Regions from separate parts of the Homo sapiens genome. Here regions 1, 3, 4, 5, 6 and 7 are each reported to be linked to region 2. Evidence: microRNA targets listed by miRTarBase, many of them from high-throughput screens and not tested one by one. Region 2 holds a microRNA gene; each other region holds the end of a gene's coding sequence.
What was found. Region 2 holds the annotated microRNA hsa-miR-520h (ACAAAGUGCUUCCCUUUAGAGU, at 2,657-2,678, opposite strand). A microRNA usually pairs through its seed, bases 2 to 8, with sites in the 3' UTR of a target mRNA and lowers its output. Matches are read on the target gene's strand: a 7mer-m8 pairs with bases 2 to 8, a 7mer-A1 pairs with bases 2 to 7 and ends in A, and an 8mer does both.

Region 1 (4,579 bases), not on the chromosome of region 2:
GATCCTAGACCTCTGTTCTGCATCTCGGACACCACCGACTGCTCACTGACCCTGGACTGCTCAGAGGGAACCGACTCCAGACCCAGAGGCGGGGACCCGGAGGAAGGCGGGGAAGGGGATGGCTCCATGTCCTCTGGGGTTGGAGAAATGGGGGACAGCCAAGTCTCCTCCAACCCTACATCCAGCCCCCCTGGGGAGGCTCCTGCCCCCGTCTCTGTGGATAGTGAGCCCAGCTGCAAGGGCGGCCTGCCCAGGGACAAACCCACCAAAAGGAAAGATGTTGTAGCACCAAAGAGAGGCTCCCTGAAAGAGGCGTCTCCCGGGGCCTCCAAGCCCGGGAGCGCCCGGCGGAGCCAGGGGGCAGTGGCCAAGTCTGTGCGGACCCTGACCGCCTCAGAGAACGAGAGCATGCGCAAGGTCATGCCCATCACCAAGTCCAGCAGAGGCGCCGGCTGGAGGCGACCAGAGCTGTCATCCCGGGGGCCCTCCCAGAATCCCCCCAGCAGCACAGATACTGTGTGGTCACGCCAGAACTCCGTGCGGAGGGCCTCCACAGGCGCCGAAGAGCAGAGGCTGCCGCGGGGGAGCAGCGGCTCCAGCAGCACCCGTCCGGGGAGGGACGTTCCCCTGCAGCCCAGGGGTTCTTTCAAGAAGCCCAGTGCCAAACCACTCAGGAACCTCCCCAGACAGAAGCCTGAGGAAAATAAGACCTGCCGCGCCCACTCCGAGGGCCCTGAGAGTCCCAAAGAAGAGCCCAAGACCCCGTCAGTGCCCAGCGTCCCCCACGAACTACCCCGTGTCCCGAGCTTTGCCCGGAACACAGTGGCCTCCTCCTCTCGAAGCATGAGAACAGATCTTCCTCCCGTGGCCAAAGCCCCCGGCATCACTCGGACAGTGTCGCAGCGGCAGCTGAGGGTGAAAGGGGACCCCGAGGATGCCGCTCCCAAGGACAGCAGCACTTTGAGGCGAGCCAGCAGTGCCCGGGCCCCCAAGAAGCGCCCAGAGTCTGCGGAGGGTCCCAGTGCCAACACGGAGGCCCCTCTGAAGGCCAGAGGGGCTGGGGAAAGGGCCTCCCTCCGTCGGAAGGACTCCAGTCGGACCACGCTGGGGAGAATCCTCAATCCCTTACGGAAGTGATGGGTGCCTGTCCTCTCCTGCCTCCTGGGATTCAGACGGTGAAGACTGACTTCTGGGACGAGGATGGGGAAAGAGGCAGCATGTCTTTGTTACAGATAAAGCAGCCACTGGTGCCACTGCTAGTGACGCTGTTGGGATGGCACAGTCCAGGAGGCCTGTGGACTGCAGCCTGCTGTGCTGAGCCCTGCTGCAGTCCAGCGTCCAGATGGATGCACGTTCACTACTGTGACGGCCGCACCTCCCCCATGCACCCCACCCTCCCCCAAAGCCCGGATCCCGAGAAAGATTTAGTAGGAGTGTAAAGTGACATTCTTATGAAACAAGTCAAAAAAGTTTTTTTCAGGCCAGTTTTTATATATCAAAGACTTTCTTTTTAATATAAAAATTAGCTAGGTGCAGTGGTTCATGCCTGTAATCCAGCACTTTGGGAGGCTAAGATGAGTGGATTGCTTGAGCCTAGGAGTTCGAGACCAGCCTAGGCAACATGGAGAAACCCCGTCTCTATCAGAAATACAAAATTTAGCCGAGTGTGGTGGCACATGCCTGTGGCCCCAGCCACTCTGAACGCTGAGATGGGAAGGTCACTTGAGCCCAGGACCCCACCACTGCACTCCAGCCTGGATGACAGAGTGAGACCTTGTCTCAAACAAAACAAAACAAAAATGAAATGTTCTAGTTTTGGTTCCTTTTGCAGAGTGAAATGCCTCCCAGGAAAAAAATACATATGTATTTTTTTGCGACAGGGTCGTGCTCTTGTCTCCCAGACTGGACTGCAGTGGCACAATCATAGCTCACTGCAGCTTTGACCTCCCAGACCCAAGTGATCCTCCCACCTCAGCCTCCCTCAGAGCTGGGACTACAGGCGTGCACCACCACGCCTGGTTAATTGTTTTTTTTTAATTTATCTTTTGTAGAGATGGGATCTCACTATGTTGCTCAGGCTGATCTCGAGCTCCTGGGCTCAAGTGATCCTCCCACCTCAGCCTCCCAAAGTGCTGGGATTACAGGTGTGAGCCACCACACTTGGCCAGTATATCCTCAGTATGAAGATATTTTTATCTTCCTGTGTTCTCTGGCTTCAGAGTTTCACCTGCCCACACAGGGTCCGTTGCTGGCAACTGGACTTCCCCATAAGCCTTGGGTATCCTGTGATGGGCTGTGTCTCCCTGAAGATTGTCTGGCTTGCCCACTTCTCCGTGCATGACTCTGGGTGTGAGTCTGTCTAGGAACAGGAGGGAAAGTTGGACTCAGACAGAAATCAGATGCTTCCATGTATTCAGGGCGCGCATTGTGAGCAGTGGAGTATGAGCCTTGAGGGCCTCATGGTTGCAGGGCAGGCTTCCCTGCAGATGGGTGGCAGCCCCTGGTAGAATGCTGGATTTCTCTGGAATCTAGAAGTGCCATATTTTAGTGGAAAGGCATCAGGGCTGTTTGACAGTGTGCGTCTTTCCAATCCCATGTTCCTCCATTCGTGTGTCTGTTATAAAACTGAGTGAAGGCTGCTATGACCTGTGTTCACTCTGGTTACAGGGAGGTGCAAACCATTCTGTCTCCCAGCCTTTCTTCTCTCTTTGTGTGCTCCCAGCACTTCCTTCTTTTCTAACATGGCCTGGAGAGAGTCTCTCTCTCCTTGTCTCTGTCTCTTAATAATAGTTTTTAACGTGGACATCTCTTCCTTGGTACAGTGGTTTTTAAATACTGAGAAGAACCAAGTCAGGTTTTTTAAAGCAGACTAAAAGCATGAAATTGCTTTCAGAAGAATGTATATCATCGGGAAAAGTTCGGGGGCAGAGTGGGGGAATCAGGCTTTATTCAAAAGAAACAGTTGAAAACATGGGACTTTTTCTACCCAATGCCCATTTCACGACTCCTCTGAGACTAATTGGGAAACGGGGAAATTCTTGGAATTTTTTTTTTAAGAAACTTTTTTGTGTTTTTTTTAATTTTAGGTCACTTATTAGTGAAACCTCATTTTAGATCTGACATTGGTAGATAGATGGATTTAGGCAAATATGATGCGTTTGTGGGGAATCCACGTGGTTGACGTTAGAACCTCCCTTCTGCAGACTGTTGCCTGTCATCTAAGCGAATTGGAAATGCTGAGCTTCCATAAGTCAGCTGAGTTTTAAAGGTAAACGTTATGGCTGAAATAGTAAAGCACCTGACCACAAAACCTCTTGTAAAAACAGCCCTGAGTAGGTATTTCCAGGGCTCCACAAAGTTGCTTATGGGAATCCTGAGCTGCTTTTCACCATCTCAAGAAGCCTAAGAAGTTATATATTTAATCAGGTAGACAAAACAGTTCAAAGCATAAGGTCCATGGTGGTGGAAAATGGATGCAAGTGATTCTAAGTTTGTGGATTTGTGGATAGCAGAGGGATCGGGACCTCTTGGAGGAACCCTGGGTACCAAGCTCCCAGGCCCTTCCTCTATCATGGATGCTGGGTGACTTTGGGAAGTCACCACCTCTTCCCAAGCCTGTTTCCCATATCACAGATGTGGGGCCATGGCCTCGATGATGGTCTCCACAGGTCTTTCCACCTCTGTGAGTCCAAGTCAGGTCAATCAGCAAGGACCCATCTCTGCCCTGGGTCAGCTCCTCAGAACCAACCCCCAGCATCTCTAAAGCAAAAGCCTCACCTCAAGGGCTGCTCAGAAGAGAGCACCTTCAGCATGAGTTGTTGCTGGAAGATCTAATAAGCTGTGTTTCCTGGGAAGTGGTGCTTTACTTAGCCCTGTGGACAACTTCTCTATGCATCTGTGTGAGCAGATGATCATTGTATTACCTTTTATCGGTAGTAAGCTTGGAAAAATAATTTAAGAATACAATGGAGAAATGTAAATAAGTATCTATGTAAATTTGTTTAAAATAAACTGAATGTATTTAATGGTCCATTTATATGTTCTTTTATGTAACATGTAGTTTAATAAAGTTCCTGTTTATGAGAGTCATGTTTCATCTCAGCTTCTTCCATGGATGTGTCTGTGTGATCTTGCTGGGAGAGTATTCAATTTCCTGCCCAGAGAGAAGCAGAGATCCAGGAGGCTAGGGAGGGTTGGGATACAGCTGACTTGTCCTCCAAAGGCTCAAGAGCCTAAATGAGGCTGTTGGCTGTGTGTCTTCTTGATAGCACAGAACCTGCTCATAATTGAGGGCTTAGGGAGTGGGCCTTGCCCCAGGCCGTGGGGATGTAACCCCGCCTCTGACACGCAGGCTGTCGATGAAGTGCGCAGCTCACGTTATTCCATGCTGAGCTGAGTTTTTTGTCATCTCCGTGGGCCTGGCAAGTCTAAATGGTGTCCTGGGTGTCCTGCATTTTGGTTCAGGACACCATTAGGAAATCACAACTCACCTCATGGCTGACTCAGGAATGAGCAGAGAGGAGGGAGAGATGGCTTGATATGACCGGCATTGTGCATATTTGAAAAGGAGTGGCGATTG
Region 2 (4,579 bases):
TGAGCTTGGGAGGGAGTTTGAGACCAGCGCCTGCAACATGGTGTAAACCCATGTGTATAAAAAATACAAAAGTGAGCCAGATGTGGTTGTGCATGCCTGCAGACACTAATTCAGCAGGATTAGGTGGGAGGTGGAGGTTGCAGTGAGCCGAGATGGCACCACTACACTCCAGCCTGGGCGATAGAGTCAGACCTTGTCTCAAAAATAACCAACCCCTTTGTAGGGACATGGATGAAACTGGAAACCATCATTCTCAGCAAACTATCGCAAGGACAAAAAACCAAACACCGCATGTTCTCACTCATAGGTGGGAACTGAACAATGAGAACACATGGACACAGGAAGGGGAACATCACACACCGGGGACTGTTGTTGGGTGGGGGTAGCGGGGAGGGATAGCATTAGGAGATATACCTAATGCTAAATGATGAGTTAATGGGTGCAGCACACCAGCATGGCACATGTATACATATGTAACTAACCTGCACGTTGTGCACATGTACCCTAGAACTTAAAGTATAATAATAAAATTAAAAATAAATATATAAGTAGGGATACAAAAATATGACAAAAAAAAAACAACCAAACACAGACACATGCAAACAAAAAATACGCAAGGTGATATCAGAGTATTCTCTGTATTTAGAAGAGTATTTTGTGTGTACATGATTATATTATATATGATAAGAATATATAAAATATACATGATATATTTTTGAGACCCTGTCTCAAGGAAAGTTCCATACATCGCATACTCACAGGAAGAATAATTCCTACACAAGTTCTTGCTTTGGTAGTGCACATAAAAAAAATTGGAATGACAGAGATTACCGTGGCTGCTCCACAAAGGTGACACTCAAATTCACGACGGTCCCGTATTTATCTACGTATTTTTATTTGTTTTATTTATTTTTGAGACGGAATCTTGCTCTGTGGCCCAGGCTGGAATGCCATGGCTTCATTACAGCTCACTGAAATCGCCTCCTCCTGGGTTCAAGTGGTTCTCCTGTCTTGGCCTCCCGAGTAGCTGGAATCACAGATGTGCACCACCGCACCCAGCTAATTTTTGTAGTTTTAGTAGAGACAAGGCTTTGCCACGTTGGCCCCGTTGGTCTTGAACTCCTGACCTCAGGTGATCCTCCCGTCTTAGCCTCCTAAAGTGCTGGGATTACAGGCGTGTGCCGCTGTGCCTAGACTATTATTTACTTTGTTGACACTGAGACTCACTCAGTTGCCCAGGCTGGAATGCAGTGGCGCAATCTCAGCTCACTGAAAGCTCAGCCTCCTGGCTTCAAGCGAGTCTCCTGCCTCAGCCTCCCGAGTAGCTGGGATTACAGGTGTGTGCAACCAGGCCTGGCTGATTTTTGTATTTTTAGTATGGACGGGGTTTCACCATGTTGGCCAGGCCGGTCTCGAACAACTGACCTCAGGTGATCCTCCTGTCTCGGCCTCCCAAAGTGCTGGAATTATAGGCAGGAGCCACCATACCTGGACTAGTCCCATCATTAAAATTAGGGGGAAACAAAGATGCCCACACCTAAATAGCGTATCATTTATTGTTTAAGCACATCTCAAATACATTGTTTATCTAAAACACAAGTTTAACTGAGGGCCGGGACGAACCAAAAAATGGTCCTTACTTTCTTCCTGCCTGTGCATGGGTTAATATTTACATGTAGTCCCATCTAACAAGGCCTGGGAGGGGCAGAGGCAGGAGGATCTAAGACCACTTTAGCCAGGGCAGCATAGTGAGACCCCCGTCTCATGCATTTATCTCCTGGTCATGCACCCAAGATTTCAGCTTCATTTCCCCAATACACACTGAAGCCCCATGCACTCCACCTCCGTGCTCTTGCTCATCCCATCTGCAGGGACACTGAGGTCCCCTCAACTCCACCTGACCCCATGTGAGGTTCTATACCAGTGCCAGAAAAATTTCCATAAAGTAAGAGGTGTTGATGGCCACGCACCATGGCTCACGCCTTTGGGAGGCGCGCGGTGGTGGCTCATGCCTGTATTCTCAGCATTTTCGGAGGCCAAGGTGAGTGGCTCACTTGAGGTCAGGGGTTTGAGACCAGCCTGGCCAACATGGTAAGCCCCATCTCTACTGAAAAAAAAAAAAAAAAAAATTCAAAACGTAGCCAGGCGTGGTGGCGGCCACCTGTAGTTTCAGCTACTTCAGAGGCTGAGGCAGGAGAATTGCTTGAACCTGAGAGGCAGAGGTTGGAGTCAGTCGGGATCATGCCACCGCTCTCCAGCTGGGGAAACGAGACTCCATCTCAAAAATAAATAAATGAATAAAAAAGAAAAATACAAATATTAGCCAAGTGTGATGTCGGGCCCCTGCAATCCCAGCTATTCAGGAAGCTGAGGCAGGAGAATAGCTTGAACCCGCGAGGTGGAGATTGCAGTGAGCCAAGATCGTGCCACTGCACTCCAGCCTGGGTCACAGAGGAAGACTGTCCCAAAAAGGACCATATGAGCCCAAGAGACCTAGGTTGGAAGTGCCTCTGTACTCCAGCCTGGGCCACAGAGACCCTGTCTTAGAAAACAAAAACAAAACAGAACCCCAACATCATCCAAGTCTGATAATAAGCATGCAAATATATTACCAACATCAGCATCAACTTCAACACTGCTTTTCCCAAACGGTAACACTCTAAAGGGAAGCACTTTGTTTTTTCTCAGACAACAAACAGAAAGTGCTTCCTCTAGAGGGTCACAGCATGGGATCTTCTTGCTCCAGCACTCTGGGTTTCTTGTTGGAATTTTCCTTGACCAGGTTAAAACGGATACAAAAATAAAAATGCATTTATTGGCCCTGTTTACATGTTTTATGGAATCCAGAACATAAACCCCTGAAAGGACCATCTCCAATTCCTTGCTTCAAAGGCTCAGCAGGTTAGCCTTGTTCATCAAGGGGCGATCGTCCTGAGTTTTGTCCCCAAAGAGAAAAAGGAATACCTACTACTCATACCTTACATTTAGCTAAGAGAATTGGGCTGATGTTGAAGAATATACATTGTCTCACACACAAACATCCTCCAGGATAGACCAGAGTCTAGGCTGACTCTAGAGGACCACGTGAGATTAGGGGCGGTGGCTCACGCCTGTAATCCCAGCACTTTAGGAGGCCAAGGCTGGTGGATCACCTGAGGTCGGGAGTTTGAGACCAGCCTGCCCAACATGGTGAAACCCAGTCTCTATTCAAAACACAAAAATTAGCTGGGTGGGGCAGTAGGCACCTGTAATCCCAGCTACCCAGGAGGCTGCGGCAGGAGAATCGCTTGAACCCAGGAGGTGGAGGTTGCAGTGAGCCTAAATTGCAACACTGCACTCCAGCCTGGACATCAAGAGTGAAACTCCATCTCAACAACAACAACAACAATAAAAATAATAACTAGCAGGACACGATGGCGGGCATCTCTATTCCCAACTATTCGGCAGGCTGAGGTGGGAGAATCGCCGGAAGCTGGGAGGCGGAGTTTCCGGTCAACAGGGATCCTGCCGCTGCACTCCAGCCTGGGAAACGGAATGAGAGCGCATCTCAAAAAATCAAAAATAAAAAGATCACCACTTGAGCCCAAGAGATCTCGGTTGGAGGTGCCACCCACTCCCGCCTGGGCAACAGGGAACCTGTCTTGGAAAAAAACAAACCAAAGAGAACCCCAACATCATGCAAGTCTGATGATAAGCACGCTCTGCAAATGTATTACCAAGATCAGCAGCATCTTCAACGTTGCTTTTCTCAAACAGTAACACTCTAAAGGGATGCACGATCTTTTCTTAGACAACAGACAGTGCTTCCATCTAGAGGGTCACAGCATGAGGTCTTCTTGCTCCAGTACTGTAGGGTTCTTTTTTTTGTTTTTGTTTTTGTTTCTTTTTGACGGAGTCTTGCTCTGTTGCCGAGGCTAGAGTGCAATGGCACGATCTCGGCTCACTGCAAGCTCCGCCTCCTGGGTTCAAGCCATTCTCAAGCCTTAGCCTCCCGGGTAGCTGGGACTACAGGCACCCACCACCACGCCTCGCTAATTTTTTGTATTTTTAAATAGAGATGGGGTTTCACCGTGTTAGCCAGGATGGTCTCGATCTCCTGACCTCGTGATCCACCCGCCTCGGCCTTTCAAAGTGGTGGGATTACAGGCGTGAGCCACAGCGCCCAGCTTTTTTTTTTTTTTTTTTTTTTCAGACGGAATCTCACTCTGTCATCCTGGCTGGATGCTGTGGCACAATCTCGGCTCACTGCAGCCTCTGCCTCCCGGGTTCAAGCAATTCTCCTGCCTCAGCCTCCTAAGTAGCTGGGATTACAGGTGCCCACCACCACACTGGGCTAATTTTTGTTGTTATTGTATTTTTAGTAGAGACGGATTTTCACCACGTTGGTCAGACTGGTCTCAAACTCCTGACCTGAGATGATCTACCTGCATCGGCCTCCCAAAGTGCTGGGATTACAGGCATGAGCCACCATGCCCGGCTTTATTTTGTATTTTTATTCATTTGTTTATTTTTTGAGACAGAATTTCCCTGTGTTGCCCAGGCTGACCATTTGAAGCCAAGAGATATATTGGACATGTCA
Region 3 (3,000 bases), not on the chromosome of region 2:
TTTCTGAGTTAAGTTTTTAAAGTGTTTCAAATATGGAAATTTTGTCTACCTAAGATAACAAAGATTTTCTCCTGTGTTTTCTTCTAGGAGTTTTAAGTTTTACATTTAGGTCTATGATCCATTTGGGTTAATCTTTGGGTAGAACGTAAGGTACACATTCATTTTATTTCATAGATCTAGTTGTTCCCGCACCACTTTTTTTTTCGGAAGAGTTTTCATTCCCTCCTTGAAGTGCCTTGACATTTTGTCAAAAATAAATTAATGCTTATATGTGTGGGCAAAATGGTACATGATACATTTAAATAATTTGTCTGTAAATCTCAGTGGGATACCTGAATAAAAGAGTGGGCCAACCATTAAAAATGATAATTACATGATTACAAATCTCTTATTTTCATTAAATATAGTTTGCTTTAAATTATTTCTTTATGACTATTCCAAAACAAATAGAAAAATTTTCTTTGATTCTAAAAACCACATGACTGGTAACATCCATATTATGAAAACAAATCATCCTATATGTTACTGAGTGTATGGGTTTTTTGGTGAACACAAGTCTTGTTCCAGATATTTGAATTTGATAATGTTCACAGATTCTAGAATTTTCTTTGAATGCAAATACACTTGGAAGTGACACATATACAGAGAAAACCAAACCCTCAATTTTCCTAAAAAAATCCAGACCTATAGCATTGCTAAAATAATCATAATTTAACTTTTTATATTAGGAGTACCAAAGTAAGCCAATATTTAATTCTGTGACAGAGGAGTATGAAAAAGAAAACCCAGTGGCTATGAAAACAGAGATCTAAAAATTTAATGATTTAAAAATAGCCTCTACATACAAGACGGCAAAGAGTAATACAGATTGAACATTTGGTTTTAAAAATGTGAAATGTCTCCACTTAGCGTAGATCAATCAAGTCAGCCATCTCCTAAGAAATACACATTATACAATGAAATCTACAAAGACACACTTTTTAACTTCAAGCGTTGTTGATTTTCAGCAACCCTCTTCCCACATGAACATTTCCTTGTAATGTAATGTATGACTTTTAATCTTCTTTTGGCAGAGTAGGACTTTGAGAATTATAATAGCAGTTGTTTTGAAAAGCACCTTCTATGATCATTTATTTCCACTGATTTTTTTTTAATCACTCTGAGATCATGCATTCTTGTTTTTTAAATCCTTTTCTGTTCCAATGATTTGGTTGTTTAAAACAAGCAAGCTTAATTCAGTCAGGCATATATTGCAAATAAAAACATGTTTCCAAGTAGGCTGGAATAAAAATGCTAAATAAGAACTGGGCCAAAAGATCATAGATAATGTGCTTCTTCTCTTGGTAATATGTGAATACATTTACCCATGGGGTAGAAGTATTTCACCTGCCCCATGAAGAACCTGATGGCTTGTGGTGTCTGTGCTGTGTCAATACTAACAGATGTGAGGAGACAGACTATGGAATGGACGCTGTGACTATCTGTGAGATAGTGGAAGGGGTTATACACACTGGCCACAGGAAGTTGCAAAAATTAGATGGACTCTGTGTAGCTAGCCACTCTTGAGTGTCAGGTCTGCATATGTGAGTTTTAAAGAAGGTGCAAGATAGCAATAAATTCCCTTAGAGAGCAGGATATGTCCTGGTAGCTCTATAGTTCCATGATCAAGGACCTGGCCAGTTTCCCTCAGGTAATGGGGGTAGTAGCACCAAAGTGAATATTAAGAGTCAGAAAGGCCTCTACTTGCAACTGGCGGATCAAACCATTCCCCTATTTTGGTGAACAATCATAGTCTGATACGCCTTTGTAAATCTTTGCTGCAAATATGGTTTTTACAACTCTAAAAACATCTTTTGGAAAACCTCATGACTGAACCACTCACAAATGCAGAAGATTGAACAGCCCCAGGGAGGCAATTGCTCTCCTTTTATTGTAGCTGTCTCTCAGTATTGAAACAACCCAATCCTAACTGTGGTCCTGGCCTCTAAACACACAGGTCTCTCTTCCCTCCAGCACCTGAACTATCAGAGCTTGGATCCACATATATATTCTGAAATTTGCTCCGCAAGAGGGCTTTTGGGCACTTGGCCATCATGTGTTTAAGATGGTCAGTTTTGAAAAGAGTTTTCCAAACAAGAATAAGTCATGCTATGCCTCATGATTTGGAAGGTGAACACTTGCAAATAAACTATGCTTCCCAGATTTGGGAGTGCCAGGCTCAGAATCATCACAAGGACGTGGAGAACAATATTATAACCAGCTGGTATGTTTTTAACAACAACAAAAAAAATGCAGCATTAGAAGGTGCTTACTAAGGTGCTTCGTAATTCATGGTTTTTTTTTTAATGAAATGCATCAGACAAACATCTACAAACAAACATGAATACATGGGCATACAAAAGCACGTGGACAAGTTTTCTGTACAGTTTATGTCTCAGATACTTCTATGTATACATAAGAACCACTCAGGGGGAAAAAAAAAGATTTCCCTCTCCAGCTCCCTGAATTTCTGAAAGTTGACTGACCCATAAAATGTTAAAATATTTCATTTTTATATAAAATATCTACAAAAATAGATAACATTTACAAAAACCAGACAGTATTTCCAGTTTTCCTTAGTAACCGTTAACGCAGTCCCCTTCCTCTTTTTTTTCTTCTCAGAACGTTGCCATCTCCAGCAAAGAGCGCTTGAACAGCTGGGCATTTCTAGAAAGGTCTGTCACTTGGTGCACCATTTCCTGCAGGGCCGTGGTGCTGGGGTAATGGAGGGCGGCCATCTTGGTTGCCATGACTATGGTCTTGAGCTGCTCGCAGAGCTGGTTGCTGGAGTTCATGACTTTGTTGCGAATGTCCTGGGCAGTCACCTGCCGTGTCAGCGTGTCTCCAATGAACACCAGTTTGTGTGCACTGAGGATGACAAACTTGCTGTGTGCCACGAAGATTCGCGGGGGCTGGGCTGAGCTGACACAACTGAAGAGTGCGTCAATGGCGTTGAGAAGG
Region 4 (4,579 bases), not on the chromosome of region 2:
GAGAGCTTAAGTTTCTTGCATAAAACTCAGCTGTATGCTGAAGTGTTTAGAAGTGAAATGTAATGATGTCTGCAACTTACTTTGAAATACATTAATAAAATGGATAAATGAATGGATAGAGGGATGGATAGGCAGATTGACATGTGTAAAACAAATAGAGAAAAATGTTATTTGTAGAATCTAGGTGATGCTAAAGGCCACACAGCCAGTGGGGACTGAGCCAAGCTAGGAATCCAGGTCCACCAATTCAGGAGAGGCTATGTGGTGAAGTAAAGATAACACCCCGTTCCCAGTTTTTGTATCTGTTTTTGTTTTGAGACAGAGTCCTGCTTTGTAGCCCAGGCTGGAGTGCAATGGAGCCATCTCAGCTTACTGCAACCTCTGTCTCCCAGGCTCAAGTGATCCTCTTGCCTTAGCCTCCTGAGTAGCTGGGACTACAGGCATGTGCCACCACGCCTGGCTAATTTTTTGGTAGAGATGGGGTTTCACTATATTGCCCAGCTGGTCTCAAACTCCTGACCTCAAGTGATTAACCAGCCTCAGCCTCCCACAGTGCTGGGATCACAGGTGTGAGCCACCGTGCCCGGCACCAGTTCCCATTAATTATCTTGGAACCCAAGGATTCAAAGAAGCAGTCTTTTCAAAGAGATATTTGAGTCACTGACCACCAGTCCTGGAATGCAGAAATGCTTAGTCCCACCTACCTCTTTTGTTCATTCCTTCAAAAGTTTCCTCTTCAAAAGTAGGGCTAGCAGATCTAAATGGGCCAGAAAGAACTCTCTTAACTGTTGTTTTTTGTTTTGTTTTGTTTTTTGAGACTGGAGTCTCACTTTGTCGCCCAGGCTGGAGTGCAGTGGCGCGATCTCAGCTCACTGCAAGCTCCGCCTCCCGGGTTCATGCCATTCTCCTGCCTCAGCCTCCCCAGTAGCTGGGACTACAGACGCCCGCCACCATGCCCGGATAATTTTTTGTATTTTTAGTAGAGATGGGGTTTCACTGTGTGAGCCAGGATGGTCTTGATCTCCTGACCTCGTGATCCACCCACCTCAGCCTCCCAAAGTGCTGGGATTACAGGCGTGAGCCACCACACCAGGCCTTTTTTTTTTTTTTTTTTTGAGATAGAGTCTTGCTCTGTTGCCCAGGCTGGAGTGCAGTGGCGCTATGTTGGCTCACTGCAACCTCCACCTCCTGGGTTCAAGCCATTCTTCTGCCTCAGCCTCCCAAGAAGCTGGGATTACAGGTGCACGCCACCAGGCCTGGCTAATTTTTTTTTTTTTTTTTTGAGACGGAGTCTCGCTCTGTCACCCAGGCTGGAGTGCAGTGGCGCAGTCTCGGCTCACTGCAAGCTCCGCCTCCCGGGTTCACGCCATTCTCCTGCCTCAGCCTCCCAAGTAGCTGGGACTACAGGCACCTGCCACCACTCCTGGCTAATTTTTTTGTATTTTTAGTACAGACGGGGTTTCACCATGTTAGCCAGGATGGTCTCGATCTTCTGACCTCGTGATCTGCCCGCCTCGGCTTCCCAAAGTGCTGGGATTACAGGTGTGAGCCAACGTGCCTGGCCGTTTTTTTTTTTTTTTTTGGTATTTTTAGTAGAGATGGGGTTTCACCATATTGGCCAGGCTGGTCTTGAACTCTTGACCTTAAGTGATCCACCCTCCTCAGCCTCCCAAACTGCTAGGATTACAGGCGTGAGCCACCGCGCCTGGCCTTCATAACTGTTGACATACAAGCATTACAGTAAAAATTAGACTGGAAAGACTATGCCTTGATTTCAACTTTAATCACAATTAATTTATTCTTTCTTTAAAAAAAAAATGTAATCCCAGAACTTTGGGAGGCCAAGTCGGGTGGATCACCTGAGGTCAGGAATTGGAGACCAGCCTGGCCAACATGGTGAAACCTGTCTCTAGTAAAAATGCAATTAGCCAGGCATGGTCGTGGGTGCCTGTAATCCCAGCTACTCAAGAGGCTGGGGCAGGAGAATCGCTTGAACCTAGGAGGCGGAGGTTGCAGTGAGCCAAGATCATGCCATTGCACTCTAGCCTGGGCAACAAGAGCGAAACTCCATCTCAAAAAAAAAAAGAGGCTGGGTGCAGTGGCTCACGCCTGTAATCCCAGCACTTTGGGAGGCCGAGGCGGGAGGATCACGAAGTCAGGAGATCGAGACCATCCTGGCTAACACGGTGAAACCCCCGTCTCTACTAAAAATACAAAATATTAGTTGGGCGTGGTGGCGGGTGCTTGTAATTCCAGCTACTCGGGAGACTGAAGCAGGAGAATGGTGTGAACCCAGGAGGTGGAGCTTGCAGTGAGCGTAGCTTGGGCCACTGCACTCCAGCCCAGGCAATAGAGACAGACTCTGTCTCAAAAAAAAAAAAAAAAAAAAGAATCCTCCGGCATTATATCTCCAGCTACTGTGGCCCAAGAATATATCTTTATCAAAAAATACAAAATCCAGGGAACATGCAAATATCTGAAGAAGAAAAAAACACTGCAATCACTAATGCATACAGTGAAGAGTTGGCCCAGTTCCAGAGTCCGCTATGTTTGATAGTTTGTGCACTTGCAGAATGAGAGTGGGGGGGGAGTTCCCCACCTGAGGCCACTGTCCTCTCTATGGCCACCTCTAGGTCTTCAAGACCAAGGAACACCTACACTCCAGGTGTCTCCTTGCCAGATGTTTCACCTGCATTGGTAAAAGGCAGAATCCTCGGCAGGGGTCGGTGGCTCACGCTTGTAATCCCAGCACTTTGAGACGCCGAGGCGGGTGGATCACGAGGTCAGGAATTCAAGACCAGCCTGGCCAAGATGGTGGAACCCCGTCTCTACTAACAGCACAAAAATTAGCTGGGCCTGGTGGCGCATGCCTGTAATCCCAGCTAATGGGAAGGCTGAGGCAGAGAATGGCTTGAACCCAGGAGGCAGAGGTTGCAGTGAGCCGAGATCACGCCACTGCACTCCAGCCTGGGCGACAGAGCATGACTCCATCTCAAAAAAAAGAAAAGAATCCTGGGATGAGCTCCGCCCCCCCCACCAGCCGAGGGACAGGCCTGAGGTATCCCCTCTATTCTGGGGGGTCCAGAGTGGGTGCAGGCTCCTTTAATAGGCACTGGAATGTAGGGGACCCCATCTCAGAGGAGTAGGAGAGATACAGGCCAAAAAGCAGAGAGCTACAAGGGAGAGAACAATCATGAAGGAAAAGCCAGTTAGGTGAATGGTTTTCAGTGAAGGATGGGACGTGAACACGGGGCCCTGTGTGCTGGAGCTTCAGAAAATGGGGTCAACCCCCAGGCACCTTTTCAGATTCCTGCCTCCTCCCCACAGCCCTCTGTGCCCCTACCTCTGCTTTTTACCTAAGGCAGAACTTTGTTTTCCTCAAACGCCCACTTCCTTTCCTTATCCCCCAAATACACAAACCTTGCCTCTTCCTCTCCAGGGAAACGCTGACCAGTTTGTGTGAACGCCATCACCCACACTCTTGAAATATATCTGGAAAGTGCCGGAAGTGAACTGGGGGATCCTTGCCTCCCAAAACAGGGATGGGCTCTGAACGCCCCACCACGGCCTGCTGCCACGCGCGCCTCTCGCTGCAGGAGCGGTGGATCCACCGATGGGCTTCCAGGGCGGTCTTGCGCTTGAAGCCTTTCCCACACTCCACGCAGGGGAAGGGCCGGCTGTCGGAGTGAATGCGCCGGTGACTGAGGAGGAGGGAAGAATAGGTGAAGCGGCGGCCGCAGTCAGGACAGGGGTAGGGCTTCTCGCCGGTGTGTATGCGCCTGTGGATGGCCAGCAGGGAGGTGTAGGCGAAACGGAGGCTGCAATCGGGGCAGCTGTAGGGCTTCTCGCCCGTGTGCTTGCGCTGGTGGATGGCCAGCAGGTAGGGGTAAGTGAAGCGACTCTTGCAGTCTGAGCACGCGTAAGGCTTCTCCCCGGTGTGAGCCCGCCTGTGGATAGCCAGGGAACCCCTCTGGCGGAAGCGGCGCCCGCAGTCGGGGCAGGGGTAGGGCTTCTCGCCGGTGTGGATGAACTGATGCTGGAGCAGGTACCTGCGCTGGGAGAAACGCGCCTGACACTGGCCGCAGGAGAAGGGCCGCTCCCCGGAGTGGACCCGCTGGTGGCTGGCCAGGAGGGAAGGGTAGCTGAAGTTGCGGCCACAGTCTGGGCAAGAGTGGGGCAGTCTTCGGGTCAGAGTGTCCTTGAGCCAGGGATTCATGGGGCTCTGCCTAGGGTTGCAGAACTCTGGGCAGGCGACGCTGGGCCACCACTCCTTGACAGCCACTTCATGCGCCACCTCTTTTTGTTTTGGACACTTCTTCAGCCTTTCCTTCTCCTCATTCCCATCCCTGGATCCTGAAACAGGGAAGATGATAAAATCAGAAACTCATCCCTGGATCCTGAGACAGGAAAGATGATAAAGTCAAAACCAGCATATTCCGGGACCATGTCCTGCCTTGGAAGGCAGCAGGAATGGTTCAGAATATGGCGCCCAGGGAGCACGGCTTAATGATAGGGGCCTCATGAAGCCCTGAAAGCCAGCCTGGAGTAAAAGCAAATGCCATGGTCTGCAGGTTAACAC
Region 5 (4,579 bases), not on the chromosome of region 2:
TGTTCTAGTAGGTATTAACATTATTTTTCAATTTTTCATAATTACAAGTAATGCTATAGTCAATATAGCATTTCTCTTAATGATAAATTCCTAAGAGTGGGATCACTGAATTAAATGGCTTGAACATTTTTATGTGTCTTGGTATGTTTTACCAACTTGATTTATTAAATTTCTTATAGGCTTTTGCCAATTTATATTGCTAACCAACAATTTTATATGAATAGGCTGGTTTCACTCCAGTCTCACTGGCATTGGAGACCCATTCTTTCATTATTGCAAGTTCCTTCTAAGGGAGCATATTGCTTCTTCTAGTATAGCTAAAAGTCAGATGTTTAGATGTTAGATTTGTGAAGTGTGGAGTTAGAGAATGGCCTAAATCAGGACGTGTCAGCTATTCATTGAGTTCAAAAGATACACTAGTGTGTTACAGAATGATGACAAAAATGATCTCTGGGACTTTGCTAGATGTCTAACCTTAGCTCTTAAGTGCTTCAGAGGGTAATCAGCTTAAAACTAGCCATCTAAAAAGATGCCTTCTTTTTTCCCACCTCTCTTAAAAATATGTCTGAACTTTGAAGTGAGTTTACTGGGACCTGTGACCACTCCTGAACATCAGCTTCTCAAGACTCCTTCATCTAGTTCCCTGTCACAGAGAGTCCGTTCCACCCTCACCAAGAACACTCCTAGGTATGCAGAATTGGCCTTCCTAGGAAATAAAAAACAACTACTTTCTTAGACTTCTTATTATATTGAAGCTTATTGAAAGAAAAATTGCATTCGATTTTAGCTAGCAACTAGACTTTAAAAGGGAACGTGGGGCTATAAGGATTCCTTCTTTAAAAAGGTTCTGAAAGTCTTTACTATTTCCCCTCTCTCGTTGTTGGTGACTAAGAATACTTAAGCAACTATTGCAAAATAGTTGTCTAGGGTTTCCTACTTATAATGGGTTATATCAAGTAATATTATAGTTGTTTATTCAACCATTTTTTATAGAATATTTTTCCAGTTCATTCTCTTTTTATTGTAGATTTGGGAGCAAAAGCAAGTCTGCCACTAACCTAGGACGACAAGGCAACTTTTTTGCTTCTCCAATGCTCAAGTGAAGTCACATCTGCCTGTTACTTCCCAGCATTGACTGACTATAAGAAAGGACACATCTGTACTCTGCTCTGCAGCCTCCTGTACTCATTACTACTTTTAGCATTCTCCAGGCTTTTACTCAAGTTTAATTGTGCATGAGGGTTTTATTAAAACTATATATATCTCCCCTTCCTTCTCCTCAAGTCACATAATATCAGCACTTTGTGCTGGTCATTGTTGGGAGCTTTTAGATGAGACATCTTTCCAGGGGTAGAAGGGTTAGTATGGAATTGGTTGTGATTCTTTTTGGGGAAGGGGGTTATTGTTCCTTTGGCTTAAAGCCAAATGCTGCTCATAGAATGATCTTTCTCTAGTTTCATTTAGAACTGATTTCCGTGAGACAATGACAGAAACCCTACCTATCTGATAAGATTAGCTTGTCTCAGGGTGGGAAGTGGGAGGGCAGGGCAAAGAAAGGATTAGACCAGAGGATTTAGGATGCCTCCTTCTAAGAACCAGAAGTTCTCATTCCCCATTATGAACTGAGCTATAATATGGAGCTTTCATAAAAATGGGATGCATTGAGGACAGAACTAGTGATGGGAGTATGCGTAGCTTTGATTTGGATGATTAGGTCTTTAATAGTGTTGAGTGGCACAACCTTGTAAATGTGAAAGTACAACTCGTATTTATCTCTGATGTGCTGCTGGCTGAACTTTGGGTTCATTTGGGGTCAAAGCCAGTTTTTCTTTTAAAATTGAATTCATTCTGATGCTTGGCCCCCATACCCCCAACCTTGTCCAGTGGAGCCCAACTTCTAAAGGTCAATATATCATCCTTTGGCATCCCAACTAACAATAAAGAGTAGGCTATAAGGGAAGATTGTCAATATTTTGTGGTAAGAAAAGCTACAGTCATTTTTTCTTTGCACTTTGGATGCTGAAATTTTTCCCATGGAACATAGCCACATCTAGATAGATGTGAGCTTTTTCTTCTGTTAAAATTATTCTTAATGTCTGTAAAAACGATTTTCTTCTGTAGAATGTTTGACTTCGTATTGACCCTTATCTGTAAAACACCTATTTGGGATAATATTTGGAAAAAAAGTAAATAGCTTTTTCAAAATGAACATGAGGCTGGTTTTCTTGTCTTGCAAGGTAATTTTCAATGCCTTTTAGAAAATCATTTCTGGGGCTGGGCTTGGTGGCTTATGCCTCTAATCCCAGCACTTTGGGAGGCCAAGATAGGTGGATCACCTGAGGTCAAGAGTTTGAGATATGGCCAAACTCTGTCTCTACAAAAAATACAAAATTAACTGGGCGTGGTGGTGCACACCTGTGGTCCCAGCTACTTGGGAAGCTAATGTGGGAAAATTGAGCCTGGGAGGCAGAGGTTGCAGTGAGCTGAGATCGTGCCACTGCACTCCAGCCTGGGTGACAGAGTGTGAGACCCTGTCACAAAAAAAAAAAAAGAAAAAATTACTTCCTTCAAAGTGTCTTGACTCTGTTGTTCATCCCCATTTCCCACTCTCTGGACCCACCCCAGGCTTACCACCACCGGGAGTTTGTTTCTTCATTTCTCATCCAGTCTCTCTTTGTCCAAACTGGAGTTGTAGAGTTGTCCTATGCCTGTTGTCTTGTTTAAAGAAACCACAGTCATGAGTTGCATAATGACAGGGATACATTCTGAGAGGTGCTTCATTAGGTGATTTCATTGTTGTGTGAACCTGAGTGTCCTTAAACTAACCTGGATGGTGTGGCCTACTACACACCTAGGCTGTATGGTATAGCCTATTGCTCCTAGGCTACAAACCTGTACATCATGTGACTGTTCTGAACACTGTAGGCAGCTGTAACGCATGGTAAGTATTTATGTATCTAAACATAGAAAGGGTACAGTAAAACTATGGTTATTATAATCTTATGTGACTACTGTTGTATATGGGATCCCTTATTGATCAAAACGTTATGTAGTGTGTGACTGTACTTAAAAAATAAAACAACAACAACAACTTTTTAAACAAGTCTTTAGGGACCAGAATGGTGCAGATAAAAAAAAAAATTGCCTCTGGCTGGCTGACTGCCTAGAACATCCTTCACTGCTGGAAGTGACTTTGGAGTGAGCTGGGATGATTAACTGAGGGCACCTGCACTTGGAACTCTGAAGCTGGTGAACAGAATGTATCTGAGATTGAACGTAAACAGTTGTAGGCTTAATATGTAACTGTGGAGAGAGGAGGCAACCTACTGGCTTTTTTCCCAGGAGGGGGCAGCTTCACAGCAGGGCCCATCTGCCTCAGCAAATTGACAGAGGATGGGTCCCATACCCCCTTTCACACACGCCTGCTAGGCCTTGTTTTTTAAAACTGCCCTAGATGCTACCTCTTTTCTTATGTCTTTGCAATCCTAGCGTTGGCCTGGTTCCATATTTGCTGTTCTGTAGTATCTCCCCAAGGTGCATTTTCAGTCACTAATGTAGAGGAAGTAAATGGATTGTGTAACATTAGTGAAGGCAAGGCTACCCTATGCAGGAACCAATGGTCCATTAACGAAAAAGGAAATGGTCCTGTGTGTCAAATGTTGGCAACCATTTGCTCAGTTTTTGGGCTAGGCCAAGAGACCTTAGCCATGAAAATAATTCTGATAATAGCAAAGGGAAATATATACCCACCTTCAACTTCTTTAACAGTACTTCCTGCGGAACAGCCTGACTTTCCAGGGCCTTCTTAATTATACCTCCTCAATGTGAGGGCTGTGGAAGGGGGTCCAGTGCTTTGGAGTAGCCATCAGTCCATCTCTTACTCCTAACCCTTTCTGACATTCCTCTCTTTTAATGCAGTTTAATTTTACTATCGCACTTGCTAATAAACAGAATCTTTAAGTTGTGATATTTACCTTTATTCTCCCTGATCTATGTAAGACTCCCTAGTTTGATGTTTATCTAACTGGGCAAGCATTACATGGTTGGATTCAGCTGCAACAATTTGAGTTTATTACTGGGTGTTTAACAACTTATCCTTCCTTAAGAGGGTGAATTCATTGCTTGCAGAGATAGAAGAAGGAATGTGAGTTTTGGTCAGAGGACATTTAGGGTGCGCAATTGATTTACCAGGGGAAAAAAGTACTCATTTTTGGTTATGAACTGAGCCTGTGGCATTGAAATTGGTCTTGTGTTCTTTTTATTTTATTATTTATTTTATGCCTCCCAAGTAGCTGGGACAACAGGCATGCCCCACCATGCCCAGCTAATTTTTAAATTTTTTATAGAGACAGGGTCTCACGATGTTGCCCAGGTTGGTCTCAAACTTCTGGACTTAAGTGATCCTCCTGCTGCAGCCTCCCAACAAAGTGCTGGGATTACAGGCATGAGCCATTGTGCCCAGCCAGTTCTTGCATGCTTAAATTATTAGGCAGCACAAAATGACAAGGAGAGCTGAGGGAGTACAGGGAGCAAAGATACCAGGCTTGCTGCTTTTGTTTTGTTATGGTAGGGTCTACCT
Region 6 (4,341 bases), not on the chromosome of region 2:
AGGCCACTCCGGATGGTGGTGAGGACAGCGACTCTTAAATTGGGACATGGGCGTTGTCTGGCCACACTGGAATCCAGTTTTGGCTGTATGCGGAATTCCACCTGGAAAGCCAGGTTGTTTTATAGAGGTTCTTGATTTTTACATAATTGCCAATAATGTGTGAGAAACTTAAAGAACAGCTAACAATAAAGTGTGAGGACGGTAAACTGAGAGCGCACAGAGCTAGTTTGTACACAAAGGCTTCTAAATACACATGTCCTTAAGGCCACTGTAACTCAGGGTTCCTTAGAGTGAAGGGACGTGCAGGTCATTGAGGGCCACCCCGGGAGGTTGCATGTGGGCAGGGCCTGGGCCAGGTGGTGGAGGCTCCACAGGGCTGAGTTCTGCATGAGGCAGGGAATGACCTACCGTTTCACAAGTGGAAAATGCCACTTCCTGTAGAAGAGCTGACTGTAGCCAAACCACTCTGGCAAAGCTTGGGGTTTTCCGTTGATCATTACAGAAGTAAGTAAGTATCATTAGTCCAGTAGCCAGCCAGTCCAACCCCTACTTTTTCACACTCCTGGGCCCAAAAGAACAGAAACAAGCCCAAAGCAATCCTCCATTCTTTATGAAAAGAAACTGGTCCCCTGGAGATGTGTTCCTGCCATCACTCCTCCAGCCCAATGAGAGAGAGGGGACAGACTCCCCGCCGGGATGAGGGGGTCTGTCTGTCTGCAGCCATACCACCCTGAATGCACCCAGTGTCGTCTCATCATGAAAGCAAGCTCAGCAGGGGGGCGCAGCTCGATGGGAAATGAGGGGGACGGCCGCAGGCCACATGGAAACCATTAGGTTAGGCTGAAGGGGACCCAGTGGCAGGTGGGAGCAGGACTGCAGTGTGGGGGGTGGCTCTGCTCCCTGGCTGGGGGGAATCCTCTGCCCCCTGCCCGTGGACGAGAAAAGAAAGAGCTCATTCCATTCAGTCATCTTCCACAAGACAGACAAATGTCCAAAAAACTTTGTTTTTATTATTAAACCTTGTAGTACAAACCTGAAAAGTAAACAAAAAACTCGCAATAAACCACATGAAGTCTCCCTCCCAAGGGAGGGGTGCAGAGCAGCGCTAATAAATTAAATGTCAAACTGTAAGCCATAGGCAGAAGTTTACTGTCAAAAAGAGGGAAAGTACACAGCAAGGCCATAGAAACCGGACAACCACATTGGAAAACACTTGACTGTTTCTGTAATTGTTAAATATTCCAAAACAGTTCAGTCTTCTGCAACAACAACCAACAAAGTGGATCATAGGACGTTCCTGGCAGTCACCACTGGCAAGCTCAGTGCAATATGGGTAGCTACGGGATTGATGAATCCAATTATGAAACAAAGAACAGCTTGTGAAAACAGTTTCCCTTTTTTATTCCACACATACTGTACACACAACCGGAGAAGGGCAACAGCTACTCCATTATTATTTTTTTGTTGTTGTTCAGTGATGTAAGCAGCACTTATAAATGTTACAAGAAAAACCCTGTAAGCATCCAATCCAACCGATGAAGAAACTGAAATGTAAGGCTTTTCTTCATCTTGTCTTCTCACCCCCCTCCCCACCCCCCACCGAGAAAAAGGCTCAAGTATTTAAAACAATTTACAGGCATATGTACAAAAGGGATGGGATTTTTTTTTCTTTTTTCCTTTTTGTTACAACATGAAGAGAAAAAATAGACAAGATGAACGCAAATGCATTTTCACATTCAAAAATAACTGCAGGCCTCCTAGTGGCTCTCTACATGATCATAAATGAAACAAGTTTTAAAAGAAAGATTAATGCTGACTTGTGAAGGTGTCAAACAAGAAGCGGTGAGATGGAGATGGAATGTTAGAAAGATTGCACGTCGATGACAAAGAAGCACTTACGGCTTCCATCACTTTTTTTTCCTTTTTTTTTTTTTTTTTTTTAAATCTTAAGGATGCTATTGAAGGGTTTTTTGATAAAGTAGCCAACAGCACCAAAAAATAACAGAATGGATTTCCTAATGAAATCAGGCACAGGTCTCCCTCATGTGACCCCTCCAAGGCAGGCAGTCTTTTCCGTCTTCCTCGCTCGCTTTTCTTCTTTCCTGGAACAGATGCATAGTGATGTGCTGGTGGAGAGCCCACTCGCTCCCGTCTCCTCGTTCCACCTATGGTTAGGAAACAACGTCCGCCTTCAGCTGCCACAACCGCCCAGAGAAACAAAACGGGGGTGCCCCGGCTTCCCAGATCACAAGCTCATCTGGCACACGGCAGAAGACGACAGCCAAAGCAAAGCCATTTCAAGTTTCGTGTGTGTGTGTGTGTGCGCGTGTGTCTCCTATCCCTTCTAAAAAATCTGCTCACATGACTGATGGTTTTTAAATTTGTTCTCCAAACTTCACCCTCTTCAAAAATGGGTTAAAAAGCCTTTTTCCCCCCAACAGTTACAAAAAAAAAAAAATCAAAACCAAAAAAAAAGGCTTTTGTCAGCCATGGGGCAATACAAATTAATACAGCCCCTCCGGGGTTTTTAAAACAGTGACTATACGGCAGTTTCCAAAATCTGACTGCAGTATCTAGGTTTTCTAAGTACAAAAAAAAGTTCAACAGTTTAATGCTAAAACAAAATTAGTTCTCTAAAACCAGAAGAAAATCTTCTTTAGAGCTAGTGCAAAGACAGCTTGAATCCTACAGCAAGTACTCCAAACTAGAATATAATAATTACAAAAAAATATATATAAATCGACCACGGGCGTTGGCATCTTCATGATGAGCTCGAAGCACTTTTGGATGAACTGGAGGCTGACAGACGGGAGGGGGGCACGTCCACTGTCGCTCTCTTGCGGGGACCTCTTTTTGGTGTGGGTTTACTGAGACAGTTCTCAATGCTGCCGTTTTTACCAGACACTTTGCCGCAGATCTGATTGACCAGACTGATAATCTGTTCCTGTTTGGGGGTGAAAGGAAGACACAGTTAACATACCGTATTAACAAGAGCTCTGTCCCTGAGAGCCATGCAGGGGCAAGTTTAGGGCAGAGGGCAGCGGTCCCCTTCACCACACCAACCAACAGGTTTTAAAATAACCCCGAGAGGCTCAGATGCAGTGAGTCTCCCTTTCCCAGCTCCTCCTGATGCCACATAGCAGGCATGGCCGTTTCATCCTCATCAACACCCTGGTCCACCATGCTTTGCCTGCTCATAAGGGCAGGGCTGGCAGGGGAGCCCAGAGCACTGCCTCTACCACGGAGCACTCAGCAAAGAGACCCAGGGGCTTTGTTACATCCTGGATGGTGACACAAATACCCAAGCTACTTGACTCACTTTAGCTACCGGCCACTGAACCTGGCCATGCAAGTAAATGCAAACACTTCTCAACCTATACATATCCTTGTAATTCACTCAAGAGAATCATTTATCTGTCGGCACCAAAAACTGTGTTTGTAACTTTCACACAGTACATCCTATAATCATATCATTTTTAAAAACAACATGGGGAGGAGTAGCAAACGTGCATCTTATGAGCATCTCTCTGGGCCACGGGTGGCTGGGAACCATGCTGACCCTGGCAGGAGAGGAAGCCAGCCATGGAATGAAACATCTGAGGGCCTGATCTCTAGTCCTCTGAAAAGCCCTCAAGATGAGGGTGAGAAAGTGACAGCTGGCTCCCATCACAAGTTAAAGGTGCCTTCGGAAGGCGGGGCGGTCCACACGTATCTGTAATAACACCATAGTCATGGCTGCTTGAGGTACTGATGATAAACACTGATAAAGGATAAGTGGATGAGCTGCCATAAAACCCATTTAGGCGGCTACTGCTACCTTACCATAAGGACAAGTGAGGAGGAGCGGCAGTGTGCGGTTACAGGAGGACACCGTTCCCTCCCCTGCGTGCAGCTCGACAGGTGGGCAGCACCTGCCCCAGACCAGTGCTCTCACACTAGGCTCGGCGGCAGGCGGCCCAACACCCTGCTCAGCCAGCCTGCAAGGGCCAGAGACACAAATGGCTCCAAACTCCCCAGAGAGCTTCACCATCCATGAGAACCCAAGCCATGAATTCAGGGATTTGCAATCTAGGTGCACCCCCCACCCCAGCAAGGGTGGGTGTTTAAAGCAGACTGTCCCGGGTCAGCAGGCCCAGACATGGGTGATTTGTGTACTGGGCACACTGGGAGGTTGAGAAGATTTTGCAATGGTCTCTGTTTACAAGGTAGAAATTTCCTATTTAAAAGAATGGGCCAGGTGTGGTGGCTCACGCCTGTAATCCCAGCACTTTGGGAGGCTGAAGCAAGCTGATCACCTGAGGTCAGGAGTTTGAGACCAGCCTGACCAACATGGTAAAACCC
Region 7 (4,579 bases), not on the chromosome of region 2:
TTATTATTTTTTTTTTTTTGTGAGACGGAGTCTCGCTCTGTTGCCCAGGCTGGAGTGCAGTGGCGCAATCTCAGCTCACTGCAAGCTTTGCCTCCCGGGTTCACGCCATTCTCCTGCCTCAGCCTCTCGAGTTGCTGGGACTACAGGCGCCCACCACTACGCCCGGCTAATTTTGTGTATTTTTAGTAGAGACGGGGTTTCACCCGTGTTAGCCAGGATGGTCTCGATCTCCCGACCTTGTGAGCCGCCCGCCTCAGCCTCCCAAAGTGCTGGGATTACAGGCATGAGCCACCACGCCCGGCCAAGCTATTGTAACTTTTCTAATGCATTATTTGTGTTCGCCTCTAGGTGGTGATGATGGGCCTTTTCATCTACTAAAGTGTCGCTAAGGATTAGAATAAATTTAAATTTTTCATAGCCTCTGGCCTAGAGGTCTAGGCTTCCTTTCTTATATGATATCTAAAATCTCCTTTAACTCATTTCTTCTTCTTCCTGCAGGAGGAAAAAACATGGGCCTTTACCAAAAACATTTTCAGTATACCATCTCAGTCTTCACAACCCCTTAACTAGGATCATCATCTCCATTTTGGCTAAGTGAAAACAGACTCAGAGTAAACTGCCCAAATCTCACAGCTGTAGTAAGTGGAACCCAGATAAGAAATATAGGTTTAGCCATAAACTACTGCCCCTCCAACAGACTTCTTTGATTTTATCAAAGAAGTGAATTGTTCTCTCGAGGCTTCAAGAGAATTCCAAGTTTTGAGTTGATAATTTGCGTTTCAGAGATCTCCAGGCTGTCTGCCTCTTTTTCCAACAAGTTCTCTTTTTCACACAAGTACACGCCCCCTTCAGGGAACATTCTTCCAGAAATCCAAAGTCCACTAACAGCATTTCCTGTCCTAGGTGCAGGGAAATGTGTGAAGTCTGGCTGCAGTGCCCAAGAGATAAGAATCTTCTAAGCTGGCTGTTGTCCAGACTTGCCATCCTCATTGTAGTAAAACACTGGCCAGGAAGACAAAAGTGCATCTGTGAAAGGAAACAGAAAGTCATCTGGTCTTCAGGGAAAGGAGGATTTCAATTTTTCCTCTGGGCCCAGGACTAAGGTGAGAGAGGTCTGACACTGGAAGCTCTTTAAATGCAATCTGAGGGCCGGGCGAGGTGGCTCATGCCTGTAATCCCAGCACTTTAGGAGGCTGAGGTGGGGGGAATCACTTGAGTCAGGAGTTCTAGACCAGCCTGGCCAAAATGGCAAAACCCCATCTCTACTAAAAATACAAAAATTAGCCGGGTGTGGTGGCATGCACCTGTAATCCCAGCTACTTGGGAGTCTGAGACTTGAGAATCACTTGAACCCGGGAGGCTGAGGTTGCAGTGTGCCAAAATCATGCCACTGCACTCCAGTCTGGGGGACAGAGCCAGACTCCGTCTCTAAATACATAAATAAGATCTGAAAGTTGGGGAAGTTAGGGGCATGAAACTGACTCATACAAAGTAAGTCACTCTAAGATTTGGAATCTGACATCAGGTTTCACGAGTCTTCTAATTTTCTTGCTATACTGTATATAAGCTTTCACTTCTAAGGACATTATTTTATTTTGTCAGACGGAGTCTCACTCTGTCACCCAGGCTGGAGTGCAAAGGCGCGATCTCGGCTCACTGCAACATCCGCCTCCCGAGTTCAAGTGATTCTCCTGCCTCAGCCTCCCGAGTAGCTGGACTACAGGTGTGCGCCACCACGCCCAGCTAATTTTTGTATTTTTAGTAGAGACGGGGTTTCACCATGTTGGCCAGGATGGTCTTGATCTCCTGACCTCGTGATTCACCCGCCTTGGCCTCCCAAAGTGCTGGGATTGCAGGTGTGAACCACTGCGCCCAGCCCATTATTTTATTTTTTATTTTATTTTTGAGATGGAGTCTCCCTCTGCCTCCCAGGCTGCAGTGCAGTGGGTGATGTCAGCTCACTGCAACCAGCACCTCCCAGGTTCAAGCGATTCTCCTGCCTCAGCCTCCCGAGTAGCTGGAATTACAGACACATGCCACCAGGCCTGGCTAACTTCTGTATTTTTAGTAGAAACGGGGGTTTCACCATGTTGGCCAGGCTGGTCTCGAACTCCTGACCTCAGGTGATCCACCTGCCTCAGCCTCCCAAAGTGCTGGGATTACAGGCGTGAGCCACTGTGCCCGGCCAGGACATTATTTTACACAGAGGCAAAACTCCAAGTAGTACAAACTTAGCTCAATTTTGACAAATTTGTAAGATCAGATAAATATGTTCAGAGATTTTGAGGGCATACCCCCTCCTTTCATTACAAATCTCAGATTTTAGTCCCTTTTATTTAAACCAGATTAGCAAAACTGAGAAAGTTTATCAGAACACGGAGTGGTATACCTGAGAACACAGCAAACACCTATGTCATTGCTTTGTGATTATGCGCATCAGTGTATTTCTTCCTCCAATAACAGAATATTCTGTTCTCCAACTTGTAACCATGCAACATTCACTGAGAACTCTTTTTTTTTTGAGACAGGGTCTCTGCCACCCAGTCTGGAGTTGCAGTGATGTCGGCTCCCTGCAACCTCTGCCTCCCCAGGCTCAAGCGCTTCTCCTGCCACAGCCCCCTGAGTAGCTGGGATTACAGGCGTGCGCAACTACCGCCTGGCTAATTTTTGTACTTTTAATAGAGGCGTGGTTTCACCATGTTGGCCAGGTGGGTCTCAAACAGCTGGCCTCAAATGATCCACCTGCCTCGGCCTCCCAAAGTGCTGGGATTACAGGCGTGAGCCACCATGCCTGACCACTGAGAATTCTCTTAAGAGCTACCTGGGACTGCCACTCCTTCTCTCCTCTGAAGCATATGACTACTAGTGACTATAATGCAGAAAAGGGCAAAGTTTTAAGAGTAAATTGCACAGTTGCTTCTAGAGGGCAAACAAAGTTAGTTTTAATCTACTGCTTCCCTATTCAGCTGACTCAGCTAATAATTCTTCAGCCTGACTACAAAGTCCAAAACAAGCCTAGCTTTGCTTCCTGTCATGCTAGGAGTCATAGGTTTATAGATGACTACTGCGGTTGGATTTGAATACAATCCTTCTTCCCTTGGATTAGAAAAATTCAGGTCTAGAGACTGTCAAAGATGGTGCTTTGTTTCAAACACTTGGCTCTGTGGGACTATCCAAGCCAAGGAAAATGAGGTAAGTTGAATTATGACAGAAATCTTTATTAAAATGTGTCTTTCAGTAATATGTTTAGCATTCAATATACACACATACATATGTACACTCTTTGACACACCTCATGGATTGCTGCCATCAGTTTAACCAATAAATTAAAACTAAAAAGAGGGAGGGGAGGGGAGGGGAACTAACGGCAAACTTTTCATGTTTTATCTGGTAAGAAATTGTGAATTTCTCAGAATTTCCCTGGGCAAAAACCTGTGACCAGAGAATCTGTGAAATAAAATACATAAATCTCTACCCCTTGGAAAAAAAAAAAAAAAAATTCCAAAAGATGCAGTTACAAGTGTGCTTCTCAGAACAGGAGCATTCATTCCACTTCATACTCTGGCTTCTCCACCTTCTGGCTTCAAGACAGTTTGTCCCTCGGCTAGGGCAGAGAGGTTCATATGGGCACTTGGGCTCGGTGCACCTTGGGCTCTGGGGGTCGAGGGGCAGGCTGCAGTATGGGAGCGGGGGGAGCCACACTCATCTGAGGTGATGTCTGGCACATCGTCTGACTGTGCATCAGAACTCTCTAGGTCACTGCGGATGCTTTCAGGCTGGGCCAGGCTGATGTCCCAAGGTTTGCTGGCCAGGCAGTCTTTCTGTTCACAGCTTTGGTGTCTGCAGGGGGGATCCTCTTCACTGCCTCCGCCACCACTACCTTCTTCTTCATTCTCTGCCATCTGAGCATGAACATGGAGCGAGTCCTCCGTGCTGCTTCCACTCACCAGCTGATAGTGGCTTGGTTTGGCTTCAATGTCCACTTGGATTTCCATATTGTTGCATTCTCTGTGGAGACAAAATCCACTTTGCTGAGTCATGCATGGATCATGCTAAACCTGTTGGTAAAAGCAGTTCATGGGTTCAGGATTAGGAATTTCAAAAAGATAGGTGAACAGTTAACTAGAGCTCACTTTTAACAAAAATAACATTTTAATCTAACACTCAAATGAGATGGAGGCTGGACGTGGTGGCTCATGCCTATAACCCCAGCGCTTTGGGAGGTCGAGGTGTGAGGACTGCCTGAGTCCAGGAGTTTGAGACCAGCCAGGGCAACAAAGTCAGACCCTGTTTCTAAAATAAAAAAAATTAGCTGGGCATGGAGGCACGTGCCTGTAGTCCCAGCTACTCGGGAGGCTGAGATGGGAAGATCACTTGAACCCAGGAGTTCAAGGCTGCAGTGAGTTATGATTGTGTCACTGCACTCCAGCCTGGTTGACAGAGCAAGACCCTGTCTCTAAAAAAACAAAAATAAAAATAAATGAGATGGAGAAGAGTAATTAGATCCTTTTTGCTGATTTAACTATACATGCACACGTGTGCTCAGATGCACACACACGTGTATCTCAGCCAATCTCTT

Region 1: the mRNA of FHDC1 is a reported target of hsa-miR-520h. Seed matches in the 3' UTR shown: 7mer-m8 at 1,558-1,564.
Region 3: the mRNA of NEDD9 is a reported target of hsa-miR-520h. Seed matches in the 3' UTR shown: 7mer-m8 at 1,710-1,716.
Region 4: the mRNA of ZNF785 is a reported target of hsa-miR-520h. The part of its 3' UTR that is shown has no 7-base or 8-base seed match.
Region 5: the mRNA of RACGAP1 is a reported target of hsa-miR-520h. Seed matches in the 3' UTR shown: 7mer-m8 at 1,299-1,305 and 7mer-m8 at 2,009-2,015.
Region 6: miRTarBase lists JARID2 as a target of hsa-miR-520h. Seed matches in the 3' UTR shown: 7mer-m8 at 1,276-1,282.
Region 7: miRTarBase lists RNF19B as a target of hsa-miR-520h. The part of its 3' UTR that is shown has no 7-base or 8-base seed match.

The regions. Positions count from the first base shown.
Region 1 is chr4:152,975,587-152,980,165 of GRCh38, forward strand. FHDC1 (FH2 domain containing 1) reads left to right here. Exons shown (of 12, transcript NM_001371116.1): 12 at 1-4,085. The coding sequence ends at 1,137. Among named protein-coding and RNA genes, the nearest start is that of FHDC1, 42 kb to the left of the region's middle.
Region 2 is chr19:53,720,319-53,724,897 of GRCh38, reverse strand. It overlaps MIR520G (microRNA 520g), which reads right to left and starts at 2,732; the gene lies at 2,643-2,732. It overlaps MIR517B (microRNA 517b), which reads right to left and starts at 3,822; the gene lies at 3,756-3,822.
Region 3 is chr6:11,182,505-11,185,504 of GRCh38, forward strand. It overlaps NEDD9 (neural precursor cell expressed, developmentally down-regulated 9), which reads right to left. Exons shown (of 7, transcript NM_006403.4): 7 at 794-3,000. The coding sequence ends at 2,658. Among named protein-coding and RNA genes, the nearest start is that of NEDD9, 49 kb to the right of the region's middle. RefSeq lists an enhancer at 2,520-3,000.
Region 4 is chr16:30,579,091-30,583,669 of GRCh38, forward strand. It overlaps ZNF785 (zinc finger protein 785), which reads right to left. Exons shown (of 3, transcript NM_152458.7): 3 at 1,566-4,353. The coding sequence ends at 3,470. It also overlaps a transcript of ZNF688 not described here. Among named protein-coding and RNA genes, the nearest start is that of ZNF785, 4.3 kb to the right of the region's middle.
Region 5 is chr12:49,986,792-49,991,370 of GRCh38, reverse strand. RACGAP1 (Rac GTPase activating protein 1) reads left to right here. Exons shown (of 17, transcript NM_001319999.2): 16 at 579-687; 17 at 1,028-2,209. The coding sequence ends at 1,103. Among named protein-coding and RNA genes, the nearest start is that of AQP6, 16 kb to the right of the region's middle.
Region 6 is chr6:15,518,672-15,523,012 of GRCh38, reverse strand. It overlaps JARID2 (jumonji and AT-rich interaction domain containing 2), which reads right to left. Exons shown (of 18, transcript NM_004973.4): 18 at 971-2,944. The coding sequence ends at 2,762. It overlaps DTNBP1 (dystrobrevin binding protein 1), which reads left to right. Exons shown (of 10, transcript NM_032122.5): 10 at 1-206. The coding sequence ends at 38. Among named protein-coding and RNA genes, the nearest start is that of DTNBP1-AS1, 25 kb to the left of the region's middle.
Region 7 is chr1:32,933,252-32,937,830 of GRCh38, forward strand. RNF19B (ring finger protein 19B) reads right to left here. Exons shown (of 9, transcript NM_001300826.2): 9 at 3,198-4,008. The coding sequence ends at 3,555. Among named protein-coding and RNA genes, the nearest start is that of RNF19B, 29 kb to the right of the region's middle. RefSeq lists a silencer at 837-1,131 and an enhancer at 837-1,131.